Regions from separate parts of the Homo sapiens genome. Here all the other regions are linked to region 2. The links come from fine-mapping of genetic effects on gene expression. A gene starts in region 2. Each other region holds a variant in brackets. All regions are shown on one strand. Distances are from middle to middle. Region 1 overlaps ERICH6 (glutamate rich 6). Region 2 holds the start of ERICH6-AS1 (ERICH6 antisense RNA 1). Region 3 overlaps CLRN1-AS1 (CLRN1 antisense RNA 1).

The links.
Region 1: its variant is fine-mapped to the expression of ERICH6-AS1 in lymphoblastoid cells (GTEx, PIP above 0.99).
Region 3: its variant is fine-mapped to the expression of ERICH6-AS1 in caudate (GTEx, PIP 0.97).

What each region holds. Positions count from the first base shown.
Region 1 is chr3:150,676,398-150,684,582 of GRCh38, forward strand. It overlaps ERICH6 (glutamate rich 6), which reads right to left. Exons shown (of 14, transcript NM_152394.5): 7 at 5,821-5,919; 8 at 4,376-4,533; 9 at 4,071-4,141; 10 at 2,012-2,157. Among named protein-coding and RNA genes, the nearest start is that of ERICH6-AS1, 23 kb to the right of the region's middle. The variant C/G (reference allele first, on the strand shown) is at 4,779.
Region 2 is chr3:150,700,467-150,708,651 of GRCh38, forward strand. ERICH6-AS1 (ERICH6 antisense RNA 1) reads left to right here and starts at 3,098. Exons shown (of 3, transcript NR_121675.1): 1 at 3,098-3,201; 2 at 7,466-7,543. ERICH6 (glutamate rich 6) reads right to left here and starts at 3,454. Exons shown (of 14, transcript NM_152394.5): 1 at 3,030-3,454; 2 at 1,655-1,712. The coding sequence starts at 3,432. RefSeq lists enhancers at 3,330-3,409, 3,560-3,649.
Region 3 is chr3:150,995,283-151,003,467 of GRCh38, forward strand. The region is part of intron 1 of CLRN1-AS1 (CLRN1 antisense RNA 1); the gene reads left to right. Among named protein-coding and RNA genes, the nearest start is that of CLRN1, 27 kb to the left of the region's middle. The variant A/G (reference allele first, on the strand shown) is at 3,667.

The sequences.
Region 1 (8,185 bases), 24 kb before region 2:
AGACTTCCTCATTTTCCAAAGTCTTTTCAGGTCTCTTCTTATTAGATATTATTCCTCTAGATTTTTAGTTGTATTGTTAAGTTTTCTTGTGTTCTTGGTTATTTTTCACTGTGTGCTGGTAACTGAACTTGAAAAATAATTTGTAGGTGTGATTTGAAGGTGGAATTAGTGACCGTCCTCCAAAGATAGTTTGGATTTACTTCTGCCAGTCACCTGGGTTTACTGACAGCCCTTACATTCTTTTGGTTTGTTTGTTTGTTTTGAGATGGGGGTCTTGATCTGTCACCCAGGCTGGAGTGCATGATCATAGCTCACTGCTATCTCAAACCCCTCAGCTCAGGTGATTCTCCTGCCTCAACCTCCCAAGTAAGTGAGCCTACAGGCATGTGCTGCCATGCCCAGCTAATTAATTAAAAAAAAATTTTTTTTTTTTTGAGACAGAGTCCTGCTCTGTTGCCCAGGCTGGAGTGCAATGGCGCGATCTTGGCTCACTGCAACCTCTGTCTCCCAGGTTCAAGCAATTCTCTGCCTCAGCCTCCCAAGTAGCTGGGATTACGGGTGCCTGCCACCTTACCTGGCTAATTTTTGTATTTTAGTAGAGATGGGATTTCACCATGTTGCCCAGGCTGGTCTCGAACTCCTGAGCTCACACATTCCACCCATCTTGGCCTCCCAAAGTGCTAGGATTACAGGCGTGAGCCAACACACCCAGCCAAAAACATTTTTTTAGAGATGGGATTTTGCTATGTTGCTCAGGCTGGTTTCAAACTCCTGGCCTCAAATGATCCTCCCACCTTAGCCTCCTGAGTAGCTGGGATTACAGGTGCAAGCCAGTTTGCCTGGTTCACCCCTTAAATTCTATATCTCCCAAGTTAAACAAACCAGGTCTCAGTAATTTAATTACGAGAGGTCTATTCTGAGGGACTATACTTACATAGAAATGTACTTACATACACGGATATTTAAGGAAATGGTATTTAGTATAGCAAAAAAATTGTTAAGAATCAGTATGTCCGAGAACAGAAAAATGGGTTAAACTACATGATAAATTATATAGCTATGAAAATAATATTAATGTAAACTATATAATATCATGAAAAAAAAATTTTTTTTTTTTGAGACAGAGTTTTGCTCTGTCACCCAGGCTGGAGTGCAGTGGCACAATCTCGGTTCACTGCAACCTCCACCCCCAGGCTCAAGGGATCCTCCTGCCTCAGCCCCCCCAAGTGGCTGGGACTACAGGTGCATGTCAACATGCATGGCTAATTTTTCTTTATTTTGTAGAGATGGGGTTTTGTCTTGTTGTCCAGGCTGGTCTTGAATTCCTGGATTCCAGCAATCCGCCTGCTTTGGCTTCCCAAAGTGCTGGGATTAAAGGTGTGAGCCACTGTACCTGGTCTTGGAAAATTTGTTTTTATAATTAAGTTAAAAAAGAGATAAAAATTATATATATGATACAATTATAAGTATGTTAACAAAAACCCATGCAAGGAAAACCATCTAGAACAGTGCTAATATAACTTTTGATTACAAGAAAAATGTTCTATATCATCACTGCAGTACAGTAGCCATTAGTTACATGTAGCTGTCTAGGACTTGTGGAATGGCTAGCGTGACTGAGAAATTACACTCTTAATTTAATTTAAGTCTAAATAGCCAAATGTAGTATTGCTACCATATTGGGCAGTGCAAGTCTAGAAAATATTGAAATATTAATGTTTTGGGAGAAGTGATTGGGACTTTTGGTAATTTTCTTCCCTTCCTTTTAATTTTCTAAGGGTTCCAAATGTTCTCTAATATGCAACTCTTACATTTTAAAGTAAACAGCCTTTAACCCAAACATATGACATTGTTATAAAGTCTAGCAGAAGTTAAAAGACCAAGTCTGTACCAATTCTTTTTGACAACTAGTTAAATGCATCATGTAGCCAAGCTTCATGAAAGACTTTATAATTTTAGGTAAAACTGGTTTTTTTTAAAATAGCAAGTAAAAAAATTACAAGTTCATTACCTTTCCACATGCTATCCGAGAATCACAACAAATGATAGACATGTTACTGTTTCTTAGTTGAAAATCAAATACAATGTCATCAATTATCTGTTTTTCTGGAATATCCACAGAAAGTTGATAAGAAATTGTTTTTAAGCGCTTTGAATCTAGTGGGAAAAGAATCACATAGAAATACATATATGTTTTAAATTTTCTAAAGCCTCTTTTCTAAAATGAAATTTCAAACCCCAATATAAATGCACTGATTCATAAGACATTTTTATATTCAAATTTTTCATCATCTTTAAAAATTTTATTATTCCCCCTTGTCAAAAAATGAGAACATTCCTTTGTTAAAAGAAGAAAAATGAGACTGGGCACAGTGGCTCACACCTGTAATCCCAGAACTTTGGGAGGTCGAGGCGGGTGGATTACTTGAGGTCAGGAGTTTGAGACCAGCCTGACCAACATGGTGAAGCCCCATCTCTGCCAAAAATACAAACATTAACTGGGCGTGGTGGCGTGTGCCTGTAATCCCAGCTGCTTGTGAGGCTAAGGCAGGAAAATTGAACCGGGAGGCAGAGGTTGCAGTGAGCCAAGATTGTGCCACTGCATTACAGCCTGGGTGACAGAGCAAGACTCTGTCTCAAAAAAAAAAAAAAAAAAAAAAAGACAATTTTCATTAAGTGAAACTTTCTGGCCTTAGTTCTAGCAGAACTGATACTCTAACAGTTGGATATCAGGAAACTTTGTATTAGGGATTTAGTTACAAAAATAAATAAAAATATATCTTCTCTAAGTATCTTTTTTTTTGGCAGTTCAACTTTTATTTTTATTTATTTTTATTTTATTATTTCAATAGGTTTTTGGGGAACAGGTGGTGTTTGGTTACATGAATAAGTTCTCTAGTGGCAATTTCTGAGATTTAGGTGCACTTACTACCTGAGCAGTGATGTGAAGTCTTTTATCCCTCACTACCCTCCCACCCTTTCCCCCTGAATCCCTAAAGTCCATTGTATCATTCTTATGCTTTTGCGTCCTCATAGCTTAGCTCCCATCTAAGTATCTTTTCAGTAGCTCTGGGTGGTAGAGGAGGAGGCTTATGCCCAGAAAGATTAAGTCATTTACCCCGAATCAGACAGCCTGTAAGGAGAAAAGCAAGGATATAAATCCAGGACTTCTGATTCTAAACTCAGTGTTTCTTCAACTGTACCAGTACTACAGTGATACTGGTGAGCCAACTTATACGACAACTAATATATGAAGAAAATAAGCTGACTTTTTTTTTTTGAGACAGTTTTTCTTTTGTTGCCCAGGCTGGAGTCAATGGCACGATCCTGGCTTACTGCTACCTCTGTCTCCCAGGTTCAGGTGATTCTCCTGCCTCAGCCTCCCGAGTAGCTGAGATTACAGGCGCCTGCCACCATGCCCAGCTAATTTTTGTATTTTTAGTAGAGATGGGGTTTCACTATGTTGGCCAGGCTGATCTCGAACTCCTGACCTCAGGCGATCCACCCGCCTCAGCCTCCCAAAGTGCTGGGATCACAGGCGTGAGCCACCGCGCCCAGCCAAGTTGACTTATTTTTGACAGATTTTCCATATCCAAGCTTGAAAACAAAATGGAAAGTATGCTTAATAAAATATGAGACAATGAACTTGAAAGCTCTTTGCAGTTATCTGTAAAGTGCTCTGTAGGTGTTGCTAATTTATTTCAATGAATAATAACAATGAGATGAAGACTGAAAACTCCAAAAACCAGATGGCTGGAAACACTAGCTTTTCTGGGCCATTTTGACAGATGTAGGCTATACTGAACTTAGAAATAAAAATTTTTCAATACTACTACTTATTATTATTTTTCATAGAGACAGGATCTCACTATGTTACCCAGACTGGTCTCAAACTTCTGGGCTCAAGCGATTCTCCCACCTTGGCTTCCCAAAGTGTTGGGATTACAGGCGTGAGCCACTGCACCTGGCCAATACTATTTTTTAAATACACCCATTTCATCTTTTGGTTAAACATCTGAGCTTTCTGACGTTGTACAGCTGGTCTATAAGATCAGCACTAATGAACTCACCATCTTCAGAGAAATGAGTCTGTTCCCTTGATATTATTGCAAAATGTCTGGCCATTCGTTGCTCCTGTTTCCTACAAAATCAGAAAACATCAGGCATAAATCTGAAATGTGGTTGAAGCTTAAAACAGTCTACTACAAAATTCAGCTGCTTAAATGCCATCCTTGTCTGTTTGATCTGTTATTACTTGTGAATCTAGGAAATACATCTTCAAAGTTATATATCTTGAAAAAATGAGGTTCATTTACAAAACGAGCTCCGATTAAGCCGGCCTGTATGAGTTTCAGTATCGAAGTCTCAATGTTACCTTTGCAGGGCTTTTTCTTTTGCCTTGAGTCTGTCGACCTCACTACCATGGGCTGCATGAGGGTCAATAGCAATTAATTCAGCTTTAGGGGGTTTGGTTTTTATTTGCTCCTCATAGATATAGTCAATCAGATTTTGGAAAGCAATACAACAGGAGGCCTGGAAAACACAGAAGTTACTCTCATCTCATTAGTCCTAGATGAGGAGGATTAGAGGGGATAAAAATGACTAACAAGGTTTGGATAACAATCCATCATAAGTTTTTATTCTGGTAATAGCTTTATTAAGATATAATTCACATACCATACAATTCACCCATTTAAAAAGTACAATTCATTTGTTTTAGTATATTCACAGAGTTGTACAGTCATCATCACAATCAATTTTAGAATCTGAAACCTGTC[C/G]TCACTAACAGTCACTTCCTCTCCTTTCTTCTTCACAGCCCCTGGCAACCACTAATTTACATTCTGTCTCTCTAAATTTGCCTGTTCCGTACAGTTTATAAAGTGGAACCATACAACATGTGGCACTCTTTATGTCTGGCCTCTTTCACTTAGCATAATGTTTTCAGGATTTGTCCATATGGTGACATGTTTCAGTACTTCACATTTCTTTTTATGGCTGAATAATAGTTCGTGGTATGGATATACCACATTTTATTCATCCATTCATCCATTGATGGACAGTCGGGTTGTTTCTATATTTTGGCTATTACGAATCATGCTGCTGTCAACATTTTTGTACAAGTTTTTGTGTGGACATATGTTGCCATTTTCTTGGGTATAAACCTAGGAATAGAACTGATGGGTCATATGGTTACTGTATGTTGAACCTTTCAAGGAACTACTAGAGTGTTTTCCAAAGTGATGCACCATTTTATATTCCACCTCAGCAGTACATGTGGGTTCTAATTTCTCTACATCTTTATCAACACTTGTTATTATCTGTCTTTTAAATTATACCCATCCTAATGGGTGTGAAGTGGTATCCCACTGTGCTTGTGATTTGCGTTTCCCTGACAGCTAACACATAACTCTTTTTTTTTTTTTTTTTTTTTTTTGGAGACAGAGTCTCACTCTGTTGCCCAGGCTGGAGTGCAGTGGCACGATCTTGGCTCACTGCGACCTCCGTCTCCCGGGTTCAAGCAATTCTCCTGCCACAGCCTCCCAAGTAGCTGGGACTACAGGTGCACACCGCCATGCCCGGCTAATTTTTTGTATTTTAGTAGACACAGGGTTTCACCGTGTTGCCCAGGCTGGTCTCGAACTCCTGAGCTCAGGCAATCCACCCACCTCGGCCTCCCGAAGTGCTAGGATTACAGGTGTGAGCCATCAAGCCCGGCCTAACTCTTTTAAAAATGGCAATGCAGGGGAAAGATGCAAGAGAAAATACTACATATGTTTAAAGATAATACTATTTCCACAGTAAACCTGACTTAGAACTTACATGCCCTTTTGGTTCAGAGGAAACATCCACATTAGAAAAAAATGCTCTTAGATCGCTGCCACAAAATTCACATTTGGGTGATGTCTCCTCCTCTTCATCCTTCAGAGAGAGAGGAAAAAAATTAAAGAAGTCCCCACAAAGAGGCCCAGAGGCTCTGAGAGCAGCAGGAGCACGACCCTGGGCATGGTCAGTGAATGGAACAGCAGTGGTGATGAGATGTGCCAGTAAGTGATATCACTTCCATTTAAGGGCTGGTGAGGCTTCAGGAGCCTGAGGTGGTGTTTTGCAGGTCTCTGTCTGGTGCAATTCCCCAGAGCAGAGTTGAGCCTATCAGGAAGTGTGTGGTCTTCAGAATGCCTTCCTGGTATAAGAAGAAAGTTGCAGAAATGAATTCACTGTGGATACCAGAGTCCCTTGTTGGGGAGGGGAATGTGTAGTGTGTACCTAGATGCAAGAGATAAGGATAACACACACTGGATTTTATACAAATGATCTAAGTATTTGAACATCATTAACTCTTTCAAGAAATGCCAAGTAAGAAAAAGCCTTGACATTACTGTGTAGGCCAACATGTACAATGACCAACTTTCTAAAATAAATGAGAATCCTTTCTCTGGGGAGCCTAGGTTGGAGCTCTGAATTTTGTCTGTATTGTGAAGGTAATTCAGGACAGGGAGGAGGAGGGGACACAAAACAAGGGAGAGATTGGGAGTTAGGGGCTCAGCTGACTCAATGTGGAGTGGCCATGTCAATGACCTGAGGTCATGTCTGTGATTGCACAGGCTCCTGAGCAGGTGAGCAGCCAAGCCTCAGGACAGGCCTCCAGGAAGAGACCCAGATCATGACTTGCAGATCATTAACAACACCAGGGCATCTGTATATGCCATGGTAACCATTCTCTGAGACTGGCAAAAATGCCTGACATAGGGCTAAAAAGTGACTAAGGTGGCCAGTGCAGCCAGGGATTCACTACCCCAGAGTAATGTCCAACATATTTAGGCCACTGAAACTACCCAATAGTAAGTACTGCACATTGCTAAAAGCAGAATGCTTGGAGAGTGAAGTCTCGCACTAGAGAGATGATGGAGGAAAATCTAGGATAGCTATCAAATGATGGAGTAGGACAGAAAGAGAGCTGGGCAATACCAAGCCATTCACAACCTGCTCCATACAAGGGACTTGGTTGTGAACTTCTCAGCCCGTTGTCCTTTCACCCTCAGCTAGGGGTGAAGCAAGATGGAGATACTTCAAAAGACCATGAGGGAGGCCGGGCATGGTGGCTCACACCTGTAATCCCGCACTTTGGGAGGCCGAGGCAGGCCGATCACCTGAGGTCAGGAATTGGAGACCAGCCTGGTAAACCCTGTCTCTGCTAAAAATTCAAAAATTAGCCAGGCACGGTGGTGTGTGCCTGTAGTCCCAGCTACTAGGGAGGCTAAGGTAAGAGGATTGCTTGAACCCGGGAGGCAGAGGTTGCAGTGAGCTAAGATCATGCCACTGCACTCCAGCACTCCAGCTTGGGTGACAGAGTGAGACTCCATCTCAAAACAAAACAAAAACAAAAACACAAAGACCATGAGGGGAGTTTGGATCTTCACCTGAAGAGGGTGTGGCTAGAGAGAAGAGCTGGGCAAGCCAGCCACTGCTACCCCTGAACTAGATTGGCATCATCACTAGACCTGAAAGACCTGCTGAGGAGCAGGAGGAGCCAGCCTCGTCCAAGTGCCAGTTCAGGGACGTCTTGGGGGAGAAGCCGCAAGGCCTTCCCCATGGTAAGACCCATCTCTGGGTGTTGCGGGAGGCGAGTATAACCTCAGAGACATCCCTAGATACAAGCCTTTGTGGTGCAGAAAAAGGAAGGTGCTACATTTAAATAAAGAATTTCAGGGCTGGAAGTGATGGCTCATGCCTGTAATCCCAGAACTTTGGGAGGCCAGGGTAGGGATATTGCTTGAGCCCAGGAGTTCAGCCCACCCTGGGCAATATAGTGAGACCACATCTTTTCAATAAATAAATAAAAAAACAAAAGAATTTCAGCCCGAAGAGTCTGTTGAGTGACCGTAAAGTTTAGAAACCTGGGTAAATATAAAGAGTAAATGTTTATAGATATTATATTACATGATATACTTAATGTTTCCCCTCACTAGATTGCATAGCTCAAAGTGCTGTACAAAATAGCAATGAACACCACCTCAGTGCATCCATACGGCATTTCCATTCATCTCTACATGTGCATCCATGACATGTTGCCTTGCATGATTCGTGCCCCTTATTGTTAATGAATAAACCTCCACCTTTACTATGCCCAAGAAGAAGTCATCAAGGGTTCTCAGATCTGGGGAGTAAGCAGTTCTCTCCACATGGC
Region 2 (8,185 bases):
GAAAAGCAACAAAAGAAAGAAGACAATATGGGAACCAATAAAGTGTGGCTGGTGAGCCAACCCAGAAAAACTGTAGACAGAACAACAGAGAGTCAAAAAGTTTATTTTATTATTATTATTTTTTATTTATTTTTTGAGATGAAGTCTCACTCTATTGCCCAAGCTGGAGTGCAGTGGTATGATCTCGGCTCACTGCAACCTCCACCTCCTGGGTTCAAGCGATTCTCCTGCCTCAGCCTCCCAAGTAGCTGGGAATACAGGCACACGCCACCATGCCCGGCTAATTTTTGTATTTTTAGTAGAGACAGGGCTTCACTATGTTGGCCAGGCTGGTCTTGAACTCCTGACCTCGTGATCTGCCCACCTCAGCCTCCCAAAGTGCTGGGATTACAGGTGTGAGCCACTGCATCTGGCAAAAACTTTACTTTTTAAGAGACAAGTTTTATAGACATAGGATTATATTTTCTTGTCCATAGATTCAATCATATTACTGGTTTGTCAACATAGAAGTGTTAGTATTGTTTGTTGGTTTTCAATTTTTAGAAACAACCCCAGAGCACTTTAATTATAATTAACAAACCATAATACAAGCATAATAAAGCTTGGAAAAGTAATATAACTTTATGTAAATATACACTGCATTTTAATATAATTTATCATTTCATATAGTTTGTTGTTAATTGGGAAAAAAGAGGAGAGAAGAAAGATGGAAGGAGGAAGTGCATTAACATGTTAATTTTTCATTATAGTCAATAGATACTAAAATTGATGAATCAAGAAGTAGAGGTTTAAATACCTCGAAGTCCTAAATGTTAGAAAAACTAAAAATAATATAACTACCAAAGTGGAGAGGTGGGAATTCAATACACATGTCAGAAATTGATAAACCAAGAAATGAAAATGTCATTTTAAATAATGGAAACAAAACTGAAGGTGAGTGGGAGTGGGGGTGAAGAAGGGCATGAGATTTTCATTTTTATACCTTTGTGTAGTTTGATTTTTTTAACCACATGTATACATTATCTTTATTACAAATTGAATTAAAAGGATAACTAAAAACATGTAAGTGAGACAGAACAATTCTCCTTAGACTTAAGAATTCAAAAGTTGCTTACAAAAGCAAAGTTAGGGTAACTAATAATTCAAGATCATTGACTCAGGTTTGGTGTGAGATTTCAGGGAATATTTACAAAGATGTTCCAGAAGGCATTTCACTGGTATCTTCTTACTATAGTTAAAGTGCCTGAAGGCTAATAGCAATAACAAGAAAAAGAAGAGAGAGAGAGGAAAAAGGAAAAGCTATTATTTCCACTCTCTTCCACAAAAGGCGTCCCTGGTCACTCTTGCATTTAGCCAATAAAAGCTATATTCAAAATTCTCAAGCACTTACAATTGCACACATGGCATATATAGTTATTCTTTCATGTTACATTGATAAGTGGACATGTAATCTCTAGAGCTAGGTAATAAGCTGGGGATAAGTGGGAACCTTTATCTCTTTCAAAGTGTCTACCAGTGTATATTTAAAAAAAACTTTTTAAAATAAGTAAGTCACAAATGCCCTGGATTATTTTACTCTACTTCCTAACATGTTTATCCAAAAGGTAAACATTATTGGGTTCAAAAAATGTGAAATTTGAAAACATTTTCTTACCTATCTATACTCATTTCAGACATGTCTTTCCTAAATGTCTGAAATATTTTAGGGAAACCTGTTGAATGAAACATTTAAAAATCAGCTATTCCCTCTAAATCAAAAGGTCAATTCTACCCCCCCCAGGAACACATGGCAATGTCTGGAGACTTTTTTTTTTTTTTTTTTTTTTTTGAGACGGAGTCTCGCTCTGTCGCCTAGGCTGGAGTGCAATGGCGCGATCTTGGCTCACTGCAAGCTCCACCTCCCGGGTTCACGCTATTCTCCTGCCTCAGCCTCCCAAGTAGCTGGGACTACAGGCGCACGCCGCCACGCCCGGCTAATTTTTTGTATTTTTAGTAGAGACGGGGTTTCACCATGTTAGCCAGAATGGTCTCGATCTCCCGACCTCGTGATCTGCCCGCCTAGGCCTCCCAAAGTGCTGGGATCACAGGCGTGAGCCACCGCGCCCGGCCTGGAGACATTTTTGATCATCGCAAGGATGTGTGCTTCTAGCACAGCCACGGGTAGAGGACAGGGATGCTGCCAAATATCCTGTAATTCACAGGACAGTCCCCAATCCTCCCCAACAAAGAATTATCCAGACCAAAATGTCAACACTAGAGCTTGAGAAGCCTACTCTAGAAGACTTCTCTGCTTCTTTTTTCAAGGAAGTGACTGGAGTGGCTTCAGCACAGGATGTTAAACACAAAAGAGAGTTGTTTTTTTTTTTTGCAGGACTGTTTCAGTAGTACAGCACCCTTAAGGCACTTCTCTGGAAATAATATGAGTGTGTGTGTGTGTGTGTGTGTGTGTCTGTGAGAGAGAGAGAGAGGGAGAGAGAAAGAGAGGGGGAGGGGAGAGGGAGGGGAGGAAGAGGGAGGGGAGGGGGAACAGAGAGAGAGAGAGAGAGAGATGTCACGGTGTGAATGCACGCAAAAATGTTATAAAAATGAGCACTCCCAGCAGCCTGGGCAACATAGTGAGACGCCAGATTAGCTGGGTGTGGTGGCGTGTGCCTGTAGTTCCAGTTACTCGAGAGGCTGCGGTGGGAGGCTTGAGCCCAGGAGGTCGAGGCTGCAGCCACTGCACTCCAGCCTGGGCGACAGAGCGAGACTCTTGTCTAAAAAAAAAAAAGCACTTCATACAGCCATGCCCAAGTTCAACTTTTATGGTGTTTCGCCTATATCCTAAATCGTGCCTCATCACAACAGCTCAGCCAAGGGTTCAGTGTCTCTGACAAGGGCGTGAGAGAGATTAGGTGTGTGGAATGGTGCATGCATTTAGAAATCAGGCACGACGCGCAGGTCGACGAAGGCACCACCCAGGAGTGGGTGGACCAGGTGCCCCCTGGAGACGAGAAACCCTCGAGGAAGGGGTGGGTCGGGGGCGGTACTTTTATGCGAGGAGGTGCTGGAGGGTGGGCTTGCGCTCGGCGTTTCAGTGCTGGTCGCGCTCTGGCTGGGCACGAACGTAGAGGTCAGGCTAGGGCTGACGATGCTGGCTAAGCGGGGGCGCACGTCTGGGAAGTCGTCGTCGTAGTCACCGATGTCCGTGACCTTCCAGAGGTACTCTTCGCTGAACGTCTCAGGGGCCTCCAACTCCTGCTCTTCCCCCACCAACTCCTCCTCCACCACCTCCTCCTCCTCCTCCTCCACCTCTTCCTCCTCCTCCTCCACCTCTTCCTCCTCCTCCTCCACCTCTTCCTCCTCCTCCTCCTCCTCTAACTCCTCCTCTGACTCCTTCTGGTCCTTCTTCCCCGGGTCTCCGAAGCCGCTAGGCGAGCGCAAGTGGGCCATGGCTGGCGGGAGGCGGGATTACAGCCAGCTCTTTGGCCGCGGCCCCGGTCGGCTCTCGCGAGCGCGAGCCTCTGTTGTGCGTTGGTCTCCCCGGGCAACTGCTTGCCCTGCGCCACCGAGCCTCCCGGATTTAAAGCGGCAGGAGCTGGTTAGCCGGATAGAATGTGGGTGCCGAGGGCCGGTGGGGGCCACCGCAGACTTCTTTCTGTCCCTGCTCTTCAGCGTCTCTGAAACCCCTGGCAGCCTGCGGAGAAACGATCTTTTCTTCGTCTCTCAGCTTATTTGGGGCCTTTTTTTTTTTTTTTAACTTGGGTGGAGGAAGTGGCTTCTAGCGACGGACACACACGGTGCCATTTGGTATTGCGGATGCTGGAGTCTGGTTATTGAGTAGACAGATGCTTGCTGGAACGTCCAGTGAAACTTTATTTACAAAATCAGGCGCCAGCCCTTGGGCCCTCGTTTGCGGATATTTTTAAAATAGCTTTAAATATTAATAAGCGTATTAAAATTGCCTTAAATGTTAGTTATCTTAAATATTGTTAGATTAATATTAATTAATCTTGATTGGCGACATTTTTAGCGTCCCATAAATTTTGCTCCTTGCTGTGATCTGGGTCCTGCTTCTTACTTGGCCCATCTATCCATCCTGGAGTAGAAAAGTCCTGAAGCATCTGGCCACCTAGGTACCACCTGCGTCCTTCTGGGACTTTGTATTTACTTACATTTTTGTAAAATATATACATTTTTTATTTTTGAGAGACAGGATGTCACTCTGTCACCCAGGCTGGAGTGCAGTGGCGGCATCATGGTTCACTTCAGCCCTGAACTCTTGGGCTCCAGTGATCCTCCCACCTCGGTCTCCCAAGTGGCAAGGACAACAAATGTGTGTCACCACGCCTGGCCAATTTTATATATTATATTATATTATATTATATTATATTATATTATATTATATTATATTATATTTATTTTGAGACGGAGTCTCGCTCTGTCACCCAGGCTGGAGTGCAGTGGCACCATATCGGCTCCCTGCAACCTCAGCCTCCTGGGTTCAAGCAATTCTCCTGCCTCAGCCTCCCGAGTAGCTGGGACTACAGGCACGTGCCACCACGCCTGGCTAATTTTTTGCATTTTCAGTAGAGATGGGGTTTCACCGTGTTAGCCAGGATGGTCTCGATCTCCTGACCTCGTGATCTGCCTGCCTCAGCCTCCCAAAGTGCTGGGATTACAGGCGTGAGCCACAGTGCCTGGCCTGTATTATATTTATTTTGAGACAGGGTCTTACCCTGTCGCTCAGGCTGGAGTGCAGTGGTGCTATCTCAGCTCACCGCAACCTCCTCCTCCCGGCTCAAGCTGATCCTCCCGCCTCAGCCTCCCGAGTATCTGGGACTACTTTTTGTAGAGATGGCGTCTTGCTATGTTGCCCAGGCTGGTCTCAAACTCTCGGTCTCAAGCTCCTGGGCTCAAGAGATCCTCCCATCTGGGCCTCCCAAAGTTCTTAGGATTACAGACGTGAGCTACTGTGCCTGGCTAGGGAATATTTTTGAAAGTAGAGTTCTTGCAGGCTAAAGGAGCAGGCAGCACAGATGAGAGGAGACATCTGAGTTGCTTTAAAAGGAAGGGCAAAATGTGGTGACCAGAGAGGAAAGTGAAAAGCTTTCCAGCAGGCTCACGGCAGGAAAGGAGGGTCAGGACAGGGAACTATGTGTACAGATATTGAGGTACAAATAAGGTAAGTGTAATTTAAAAAGAGAAAATAAGAAAAAGCTCATTTCTTTTCTGGACAATACTAACAGTTTGATGCTGGAAGCTATCTTAGAAGTTAGGAAATTCAACCAGGGTCCTCAGAGAGCAGACTGGAAGTCAGGATGTGGGGATGAGACACGGGGCTGGCAGACAGCAAGGGTGACAGTGCTTGTGCTTACTCCGCTTGTGCCTGCTGTAGCTCAGTTCTGTGACTGCCCTGGCATTTTCTCAATTGTGTGGTGAATTAATTTGTTTAAGTACTCCTTGTTTAGACCCTCTATTTAAGACCTTTTTTGAACATTTTATGGAATCTCCTTCCCTTGGATCTACTTACTACGGAAAGAACAGTCCCTTATTTTCTCATGAGTTGATGCCACTCTTGTTTTGGCCGTTCAGAGATAATATGATGCTGGGTCAGTTTATATTTTCCCCTTCTCCATTCCTGGTGTCTAGCTTGACTCAGGAACTTGAGATTTGAGAACCAGGCACCAGCCCTGACTAACTGTGACTTTGGGGTTACTGAGCCTCAGTTTCTTGGTGTGTTAAATGGAAATATCAGTACCTTTCCACTTAATTTATGGGGCTATTTTGAGATAAAATTTAATTATTGTTTATTTTCTTCTTCTTTTTTTTTTTTCCTAAGATGGCATCTCAATGTGTTACCCAGGCTGGTCTTGAACTCCTGGACTCAATCCTCCTACCTTGGCCTCCCAAAGTGCTGGGATTATAGGTGTGAGTCATCCTGTCTGGCCTATTTTCTGAGGACTGATTTTGTATTTTATTATTATTATTTTAGGACCACATAACTCTGTTTAGAAAATGTTTCTAATGTATTGAGTGCTTCAAAGGTATATTAGTTCGATTTCACACTGCTATAAGGAATTGCCTGAGGCTGAGTAATATATAAAATAAACAGGTTTAATTGACTCAGTTCCATATAACTGGGGAGGCCGCAGGAAACTTACAATCATGGCTGAAGGTGAAGGGGAAGCAAGGCACATCTTACTTGTTGGCAGGAGAGAGAGAGTGCAGGGGAAACTGCCACTTTTTCTTTTTTTTTTTTGGAGACAGAGTCTCACTCTGTTGCCCAGGCTGGAGTGCAGTGGCGCAATCTTGGCTCACTGCAAGCTTGGCCTCCCGGGTTCACGTCATTCTCCTGCCTCAGCATCCCGAGTAGCTGGGACTACAGGCGCCCGCCACTACGCCTGGCTAATTTTTTGTATTTTTAGTAGAGACGAGGTTTCACGTGTTAGTCAGGATGGTCTCGATCTTCTGCCCTCAGGTAATCCACCCGCCTTGGCCTCCCAAAGTGCTGGGATTACAGGTGTGAGCCACCATGCCCAGCCAGAAACTGCCACTTTTAAACCATCAGATCTCATTGAGAACTCCCTCACTATCACGAGAACCGCATGAGGGAAACCACCCCCATGATCTGATCACCTCCCACCAGGTCCTGCCCTCAACATGTGGGGATTACAATTCAAGATGAGATTTGGGTCAGGAAACAGAGCCAAACCATATCAAGAGGTAATGGATTTTTAAAAAATTTCCTATCTCAAGTATATAATGTTATGTAATTGTTCCCTATTGTCATCATTTGATATTTTGTTTGCCTTTCTTTAATTTTGTTTTTAATTGGCACATCATAATTGTACATATTCATGGGATACAGTGTGATGTTTCAATATGTGATACATTGTGTGAAAATCAAATCAGGATATTTAGCATATCCATCATCTCTTACATTTATCGTTTGTATTAGTTCCTTCTCACACTGCTAATAAAGACATACTTGAGGCTGGGTAACTTATAAAGGAAAAAGCTTTAATTAGGCCTCAGGAGACTTACAATCATGGCAGAAGGGAAAGCAAACACATTCTTCTTCACATGATGGCAGGAAGGAGAAGTGCCGAGCAAAAGTGGGGAAAGCCCCTTATAAAACCATCGGATCTCGTAAGAACTCACTCACTATCATAAGAACAGCAGCATGGGGGTAATTGCCCCCACGATTCAATTACCTTCTATGGGTTTCTCCCACGACACGGGATTATGGGAACTACAATTCAAGATGAGATTTGGGTGGGGACACAGCCAAACTATATAATCATTTCTTTGTGATGAGAACATTCAAAATTATCTCTTCTAGCTATTTTGAAATATGTAATATTGTTAACCATAGTCAGCCTAGTGTGCAGTAGAATACCAGACTTTATTCCTCCTATCTAACTGTAACTTTGTACTCGTTGACCAATTTCTCTTTATTTTCTCTCCATCCTCCCCTCCGCAGCCTCTGGTAACCACTGTTCTACTCAATACTTCTATGAGGTGAACTTCTTTGGATTCCACATATGATCAAGATCATGAGGTATTTGTCTTTCTATAGCCTGGCTTATTTCACATTACATAATATCCTCCAGGTTCATCCACATTGTTGTATATGACAGGATTTCATTCCTTTTTATGGCTGAATAGTATTCCATTGTATCTATACACGACTTTTTCTTTGTTTGAGACAGATTCTTGCTCTATTGTCTAGGCTAGAGTGCAGTGGTGCAATCATGGCTCACTGCAGCCTCAAACTCCTAGGTTCAAGCGATTCTTCCACCTCAGCCTCCCCAGTAGCTAAGACTACAGGTGTGCACTATCATGCCTGGCTAATTTTTAGTTTTCTGTAGAGACAGAGTCTTGCTATTTTGCACAGGCTGGTCTTGAACTCCTGGCCTCAAGTGAGTCTCCCACCTTGGCCTCCCAAAGTTCTGGCAATACAGCTGTGAGCCACCATACTCTGGCAGATTATTATCATTATTATTATTTAGCTTTTGAGTATTCTGAGTTCCTCATATATTCTGAATATGAACCCCTTGTCAGATGTATGATTTGCAAATATTTTCTCCTGTTCTGCAACTTGTCTCTTCACTCCGTTGATTGTTTCCTTTGCTGTGCGGAAGCTTTTTAGTTTGAAATAATTCTATTTGTCTATTTTTCTTTTTGTTTCTTGTGCTTTTGG
Region 3 (8,185 bases), 290 kb after region 2:
GGTGATGATGTTTCCTTGATGTTTTTTAGGGCACTTTTCTGCATAGGAGGAAAGTAAACTCTGAGGCTTCCTGTATTCTGTAATGATTAATAAAGTACTGTATCATTGTGTCATATAGAGCTATACAGGCATCGACAAATTCATTTGTTTGCAATGAATTAGACTTCAAAGACGGTGCAATGAACGAAGGCAATTTAAAGGATAGTTTGCGCCCTTTGGAAATGTAGATATTTTAACAAATAGGAACATATGAGTCATATAAACCTTAGAGTGAATGAATTAACTAGCTTTTTTCCTCAAAGCAGTGTTGATGGGAGGAAAAGAATTGGTGCTAAGAGCCTGAGGGGTGGTGGAAAAGGAAGGAAGAGTAATCTGCAAGACTGTCAGGTGTGAAGGGTGTGGGGACTGCAGCAATTCTTGCAAGGTCAGCAGAGTGGGCCAACTTTTTCAGTTGCTGGCTGACCTCAGCCAGGGATTAGGTTCTGTTCAAGGGCAACATTGCTGCAATATCAAGGGGCCATGCTCTGGTTGCTGAAAGCTCATGCCCAGGACTGCTGGCCTGGGTTCTGGCTGTCTGACCATTTACTCTTATTTTCTTTTTATATCTGTCATATTTTCTCAGTCAGCTAGGATTTTTGGTTGCAAGTAACAGAAACGCCAACCTAAACTGACTTAGGCATGAAGGGAATTGTTCGCGCTTATATAACTGAAAAGATCAGGGGTAGTGCTGGTGTCAGGGTTCAAAAGAAGTCATCCAGGTTCAGTATTACTCCACCTTTTCTCAGCCTTTCACTGTGTTCATTTCTACTTCAAACTTCATGGCTTGATGGTGACAGTAGCTTCAGACTCTTCATCCCCTCAGGTTCGAGGCACAGAGAAAGAGAGTCTGCCTTTGCTTCAGATATCTGAAGAAAAAGCTCCCTTGTGTCCCAGTGGCTCTGAAGGAGCCATGTGCCTATCTATGAAGAAATTACTGTGGCCAAGGGAAGCACAAGCTCTGATGAGCCATTCCTCAGTCTCATGCCACCCTCAATACAGAGGCTGGAGGCAATTCCATCAGAGCTACTTGGGCAGCAGATGGGGAAAGATTAGCTCTACAAACAGGAACCAGAGCTGGTTATCAGAAGTAGAATGAATGCTGGGGAGTATTTTTTTTTTTTTTGGTCCACTACCTCTTCCAGTATTTGTGTCTTTTTGATTCTGAAAACCCACCCTTGATGTTTCCATCCCCTCACCAACTGCGGCTATCAAAACAGTTAACCCCTGATGCTCAAGTTTATCCTCTCCAGCCCTGTCGAGAATCAATGAACACTTTGTCACCAGTATCAGAAACTTTCTTGTATGCTCTAGGTCCAGTGGTTTGAGACGATGACCAGGTCTAGTAAAAGCATTCTATTGAAGCCTACCTTCATAGCTTTCACTTTGGGGCCTAAGGTGCCTTCCTGATTTTCTCTGCTCCAGTTTTTCTGGGATGAGGGAAATGAATACCTAACCCAGTAATTCTCAAGCCTGGATTCAAATTAGAATCACTTGAAAAGCTTTTTAAAAATTCTCATTCCTCTAAGATCAGAAATAAGAAAATTTTTAAAATTCTCATTCCTCTAAGATCAGGATCAGGATCAAGGCAAGCACAGCTGCTCTTACTCCTTCTATTTAACATAGTACTGAAGTCCAAGCCAGAGCAATTGGACAAGAAAAAGATAGAAAGGTCATCCAAATAGGAAAGAAAGAAGTAAAATTAACTGTTCACAGATGATATGATTTCATATATAAAAACCCTAAAAATTCCATTCACACACAAAAAAGTCTGTTAGAACTAATAAATGAATTCAGCTAAGTTGCAGGATACAAAATCAACATGCAAAAATTGACTGCATTTCTGTACAACAACAATGTATAATCTGAAAAGAAAATTAAGAAAACAATTCTATTTATAATGGAATCAAAAAGAATAAAAATTCTCAGAAATAAACCTAACCAAAGACATGAAAGACTTGTATACTAAAAACAAATCATTGCTGAAAAAATTAAAGAAGACACAAATAAATGAAAAGACATCTCATGTTCATAGACTGGAGGACTTAATATTGTTAAGATGTCCATATTACTCAAAGCTATCTACAAATTCAATGCAATTCCTATCAAAATTCCCACAGCATTTTTTGCAGAAACAGAAAAATTCATCTGAAAATTCATATGGCATCTCCAGAGGCCCCACATTTTGAAAATAAACAAAATTAGAGGAATCACACTCTAAAGGACAGACACTTTGTAATATGTTATTTCAAAACATATCACAAAGTTACAGTACTCAAAACAATGTGAAATTGGCATAAAAACAGACATGTAGACTAATGGAATAGAATAGAGAGCTCAGAAATTAACCCTTGCATATCTAGGCAAAAGATGTCCAACAAGGGTGCATACCAAGTTCACAGCGGCACCACTATTCACTGTAGCCAAGAGATGGAAGCAACCTAAGTGTCCACTGACAGATAAATGGATAGACAAAATGTGGTATATACATACAATGGAATATCACTCAGCTTTTAAAAGGAAGGAAATTCTGTCACATGCTACAGCATGGACGAACCTTGAGGATATTATGCTAAGTGAAATAAGCCAGTGACAAAAGAGACAAATACTATACAATTCCACTTATACGAATATCTAAAGTAGTCAAATTCATAGAAACAGAAAGTAGAATGGTGCTTACCACGGGCTGAAAGGAGGGGGAAATGAGGAATTGTGGTTTAATGGGTATAGAGTTTCAGGTTTGCAAGATGAAAAAGTTCTGGAAATTTGTTTCACAACCATGTGAACTGTACAACTAAACCAAATTGCACTACTGAACTGTGCAATTAAAAATGGTGAAGATGGTAAGTTTTCTGTGTGGTATTTTTTTACCACACAAAAAAATACACATCCTGAGTCCAACATCAGATCGATTAAATCAGATGGAGTGGGGCTAGGGCTTCAATATTATTAAAAGCTTTCTGAATTATTTTATGGTAAAGTCAGGGTTGCAAGTGACTTAATCACTTAATCATGAATTGAATTTATTGACCAACTCTTCTTCCTTAGCTGACTACGGCAAGGGGTAGGCCCTTACCCTTTTGCACAGAGTAGAATGGAGTCCGTTTACTGAACACCTTCACTGAGAGCTGGATTGGGGTTCAGATTCTATATGGGTCACCAAATCAACCCAAATAGGTTAGAAGCAGGACATCAGTTCGCTCAGATTTCCATACACACCTTTTGTGTAATTTCTGGGCAGGCAAAAAAGAGGAGATCCCTAGTGTTGCTCAGGGTGAGGTCCCAGACACAGCGAGACCCTCCCTAAGGGATAGTTAGGAGAAAAAAGATGGCTGGCAGAGAGGAAAGAGAGAGACACTAGTAGCCCAGGGTGCTGCCAAGGAATGGAAAGCCACAGAGGGCAGCCGAAGGAAAGTGGCCACCTGAGACTAGATGGGTGGGGTAAGGACAGAGAGAAAAGTTCCAGAAGCCCGAAATGGAGAGCTGAAGGGAAAAAGAGAAACAATAACATTGTTTTTTGTTCTAGAACTAGGCCTATTTAGTTTGTTTTAAAATAAAAGCCGCTATAGTAGGGAAAACATCATTCCTTATTGGGGAGAGAATGCAGAGCAGATAGCAAAGTTTTCATGC[A/G]GGGAAGAATAATCAATATTCAAAATCTTACTTCTCAATACACAGATGGATTGAATTCAGGCTTCAGCATCATTTAATTAAATGGACTATTGTTTCTCTCTCACGAGTTTTAGTGAGAGCATTGCAAGTATGAGGAGAGCAGGATTAGGTTCTAATTGAAGCAGATCTATCTGCCTCAAAGCCGAGGAGTACTGTTTAAACAGACTGAGAAGACTTTTATTTAAACTTCATATTCAAAAGGGTGTGGGTGCACAGATGGGTACACGTTACCTCCTTGGTTTCTAGTTTTAGAAGCAGGGCAAAAACGTTGGGTGAGTTCAAAATTTTTTTTAAATTACAGCTGGGTTTCTTCATAAAGCATATTAGCTAGGTGGCATTGAAAGGGTAGTATGTAATTTGTGCTTCTGCAACACTTTCTTCCAGAAAATGCGTTTAGATTTTATTTTCATTTATAATGAAAACCAATATTTAAATGCCTGTTATGAAGTAGCAGGTCAGGAGTTTTAAATGCACTAAGATAATTCCTACAATAACACTATTATTCCCATTTTTACAGCTGATGAAACTGAGGCTCACAGAAATTTTACACATTTTTCAAGGTCACTTAGCTAATAAATAGCAGAGCTGGAATTCAAAGCCAGTTATTTATGGTCCCCAAACCAATATTCTTTTTATTAGGTATTTCAGATTTTGAAGGAGATGAAGCCAAGGTGTATAATTCCTTTGTTTCTATTTTCACAGAGTTAAACTTAAATAGCAAATATAAGTCTTATTCCTCAAACTCTGCAAACAAAATTAATTTCTTTCATTTTCATAAATCAATTTAATGATAATTTCAGGCCCCCACCCTGCTAAATTGTCTACTAATTGCTGAAATGCCCCACTGTCTCAGCCCAAGTGTTTCCTTGAAGTCTGAAGTCAGCTATTTCCACACTATGTTTTATCCTTGGTCATCCTTGGCATGCCATGGCGCCACCCTTGGGCCCAGCCACTGAGGTCTGTTCCAGTCCCTGGGACTTCATCTTGAGAAAAGTCTTCTTTGATCATACTTCCCCAGAAGGACTCCTCTCTCACCTCAAATTCTGATCCCAACAATGAGTTTAGGCTTTTGAAAGTAAAAGACAGGGCCGGGTGCGGCAGCTAACGCCTGTAATCCCAGCACTTTGGGAGGCCAAGGTGAGTGGATCATTTGAGGTCAGGAGTTCGAGACCAGCCTGGCCAACATGGTGAAACCCCGTCTCTACTAAAAATACAAAAATTAGCTGGGCGTGGTGGCGGACACCTGTAATCCCAACTACTTGGGAAGCTGCAGCAGGAGAATTGCTTGAACCTGGGGGGCGGAGATTGCAGTGAGCCAATATCGTGCCACTTCACTCCGTCCTGGGCAATAGAGCGAGACTCAGTCTCAAAAAAAACAAAACTAAACTAAACAAAAAACAAAAAAAAAGAAAAGAAAAGACAGGAGGAGGATAACAATAGCACCTACTTCAAAGGGTTGCTGTGAAGATTAAATGAGTTAATACCTATAAAATGCTTAGCACAATGCCAGATATAGTACATGCTAGTAAATATTTGCTATTATTACATTACTTTAGAATATACTTACATATATCTTTTTCTCAATTTTACTTTGGTGGCCTGCAAAATACATGATAAAATGTAGAATTTGTGATGATTTGCATATAAGTGGTGCTGGTATTGGTATATGCCCTCCAGGCACAGAAATTCTACTCTTCTACTTCACACAATTCTCATCAAAAAGGAGAAAAAAGTACAATGCTGTTACAATTGTATGCACTGAATTTTACAGTATATTATTGCCAAGAAAAAAACTTCCATATTGTCTAGTTATCAATGAGAATTCCACCCTCCCCTTACAATTTTACACATGCTATGATTAGAAGAATTCCACAGAGGCTAGCTTCCGGCTCGAGTTTTTCAAATCTCGTGTCTCCTCCATAGCCGTATGTCCAGAATTACGTGCTGTATCTCACTTTCGTACCCCAACCCCTGGCCGTGAAGCTTGGTTCCATGATGAATCAGCATAGTAGATAAAAGGAGTATTCCTGGACGCCGTTTCTACACTGGCGTGATTGAAAACCACCTAAAAATCTCTTACTAAACCCAACTTTAGTGTAATCCCACCTCAACATCCCATTAGCCATATCCAAAAAATTCCCACACTCAGTGCCACCTGACGGGAAGGGAAACGTAACAGCAGTGAAGTCTGATTGGAAAGAAACAGTAACCTTAATTAATTAAGGTAAACGTATCTTACATTTGCAAAATTTCCATAAGCACTATGTAAATTTATGGCTAGGGTCCCTCTGAGGTCCCTGAAAGGTATCTGTGCAATAGAGGGGCCTGAAGCTTCAGCTTAGTTGATTTCACAGTAAATCGCATCACAAGTATTAAGTGGGATGATTCATGTAAACGGCATAGGACTGTGCCTAGCACATCCAACAAATGTCAACCCTTGTCTGCAGTCGAGTAGTAGTAGGGCTAGTAGGCGTTATTTGTGTTGATTTTTGTCCACATGCCCTCTCCTCCTTGTCTGCCCATTCTTGGCCCTTCTGTAACCTGCTGTGCCTCAGGAAGCTGACCCCTGTGCTCTTTCTTACACAGACTTCCTTGCCCCTGGTGCTTTCCTGTGGCCAGTGAGAAGCATCAGCAAGAAACTGGTAGGTGGGAAGAAAGAGAGTTTGGGCTATTTATATTCGTTCCCCCCATCTCCATATGCTCTCCCTCCAATTTCCTCATGGTTCGGGCTCTGTCTGCACATAGCTGTAGCTCCTATTGGGTGGATTCTCTCCAAGGACTATAGATTGTGCTGGTTTTGATAACACAACCTCCACCCTTTGCTCTCTTCAGGCCTAAAAGTAGAACAGGCTTCCTCAGTCCCTGGAGGCCTCACCATCCTTTGTTTGTTCCCTTAACCTGTCCATACCTTTGTAACTAGTGGCTTAATTAAATCCCTTTCAATAAGTTGTTTTGAGTATGCTGTTTCCTGCAGAATCCCTGATTAATACATTGTTTGTTCTGACCCCAACTAGTATGCCCCATGGTCATCCCTTTTCTGTCTCCTGATATCCTGAGATAAAAGGTATTGCCTATTTTCTCCTTCTCAGAGTAAGTCATGAAAAATATGTACATAAAGTCATTTTCCCCTCCAGTAGTATGGCCATAAACTGTATGAAATCCATGTGTGACTTAGAGGAGAGCTCTGCTTGTTGATCTAACTGTTAATTTCCCCTGGGGGTAACATGTCCCTTGGAGTGCTTAGCCTGTCTTTAAAATTTTTACGTTTCCATATGTGTTTATGTAACCACTTAGTTCTGTCCTATGTAGCTCTAGGGATATGTGCTACACTCAATGGAAGTTGAATTGTCCTGTCATATTACATAAGATGAAAATCTGACTCCATTCAACTGCCAGAGCAATAGCCAGAGAAGACATTAAGTGAGAACTGATTTTTGGCCCGGAGATCCTTTTCCATTCATGAGTCCTCTAGGGTTTCTCCAAGGCTACACAGATGGTCATTCTTCAAAAGGAATACAGTTTTTTTCTCCCCTTAGGAAATACTTAATCTGGACATTAGAACTGTTTCTGAGAGTGGGGAGGAACACAGGAAAAACTCACCAGCACAATGTTTATTTTTAATAAGAGAAAGGGAAAGGAATGTGCAGATAGAGAACATTCTTATGTTTTCTTCTTCATACAGCTGCAGGTGAGATCTCCAGAGACTCTGACTTTAGAAGTGCACCAGACCAGGAATCTCTGTAACAATACTGCCTGTGAAGAGCATGGCTCAGGCCTTGTTTGATCTGATAGTCATGGCCACCCATGAAGGACTTGTATTTGCCGAGTATTCCAAAAAATATCTCGCATCTGACTCTATCCTAGGCTGAACTGTTAATCTGTTCTTTCATCCCTTCAATCAGTATTTGTTGAGTGCCCATAATGGAGGAGGCCTTGTTTGAAGTGCTAAAGATACAGCTGTGAATACGACAAAGTCCTTGCCCTCATGAGCTTACATTCTAGTAGGAGAGACAGAAAATAAACAAGTAGGTAATTAAATACATATAATACCTTATAATTTTAATTAGTGATAAGAGCTCTGAGGCAGTAATGCAGGGTAAATTTGTTGTAATCAATCAATATCTTATTAATGTTGGTATGCAGAAAAGAATGAACAATAGCAGGCCTGAGGCTGCAATGCTTAGACCGGCTGCTTGCAATGTTGACCCTTGGCTGGTATCTGGAAACTTGAATAGTAAACAGTTCCCTAGACTGACACAAAACTTTCCATAAGCGATAAGAATGGTTCACTGTAACTAAACTGTCTATGCAAACAGTATGGTTTCTGTCAAACACCTGCTTTCCTTCTGGGAGTCTGAAATTCAGTATGTGTTGGGCAGAGGGTGCCAGTGTGACCAGCTACCAGCAAAACCTTGGGTGCTGAATCGTTAATGAGCCTCCGTGGTAGATAGTATTTTCACATGTGTTGTCACAATTCATG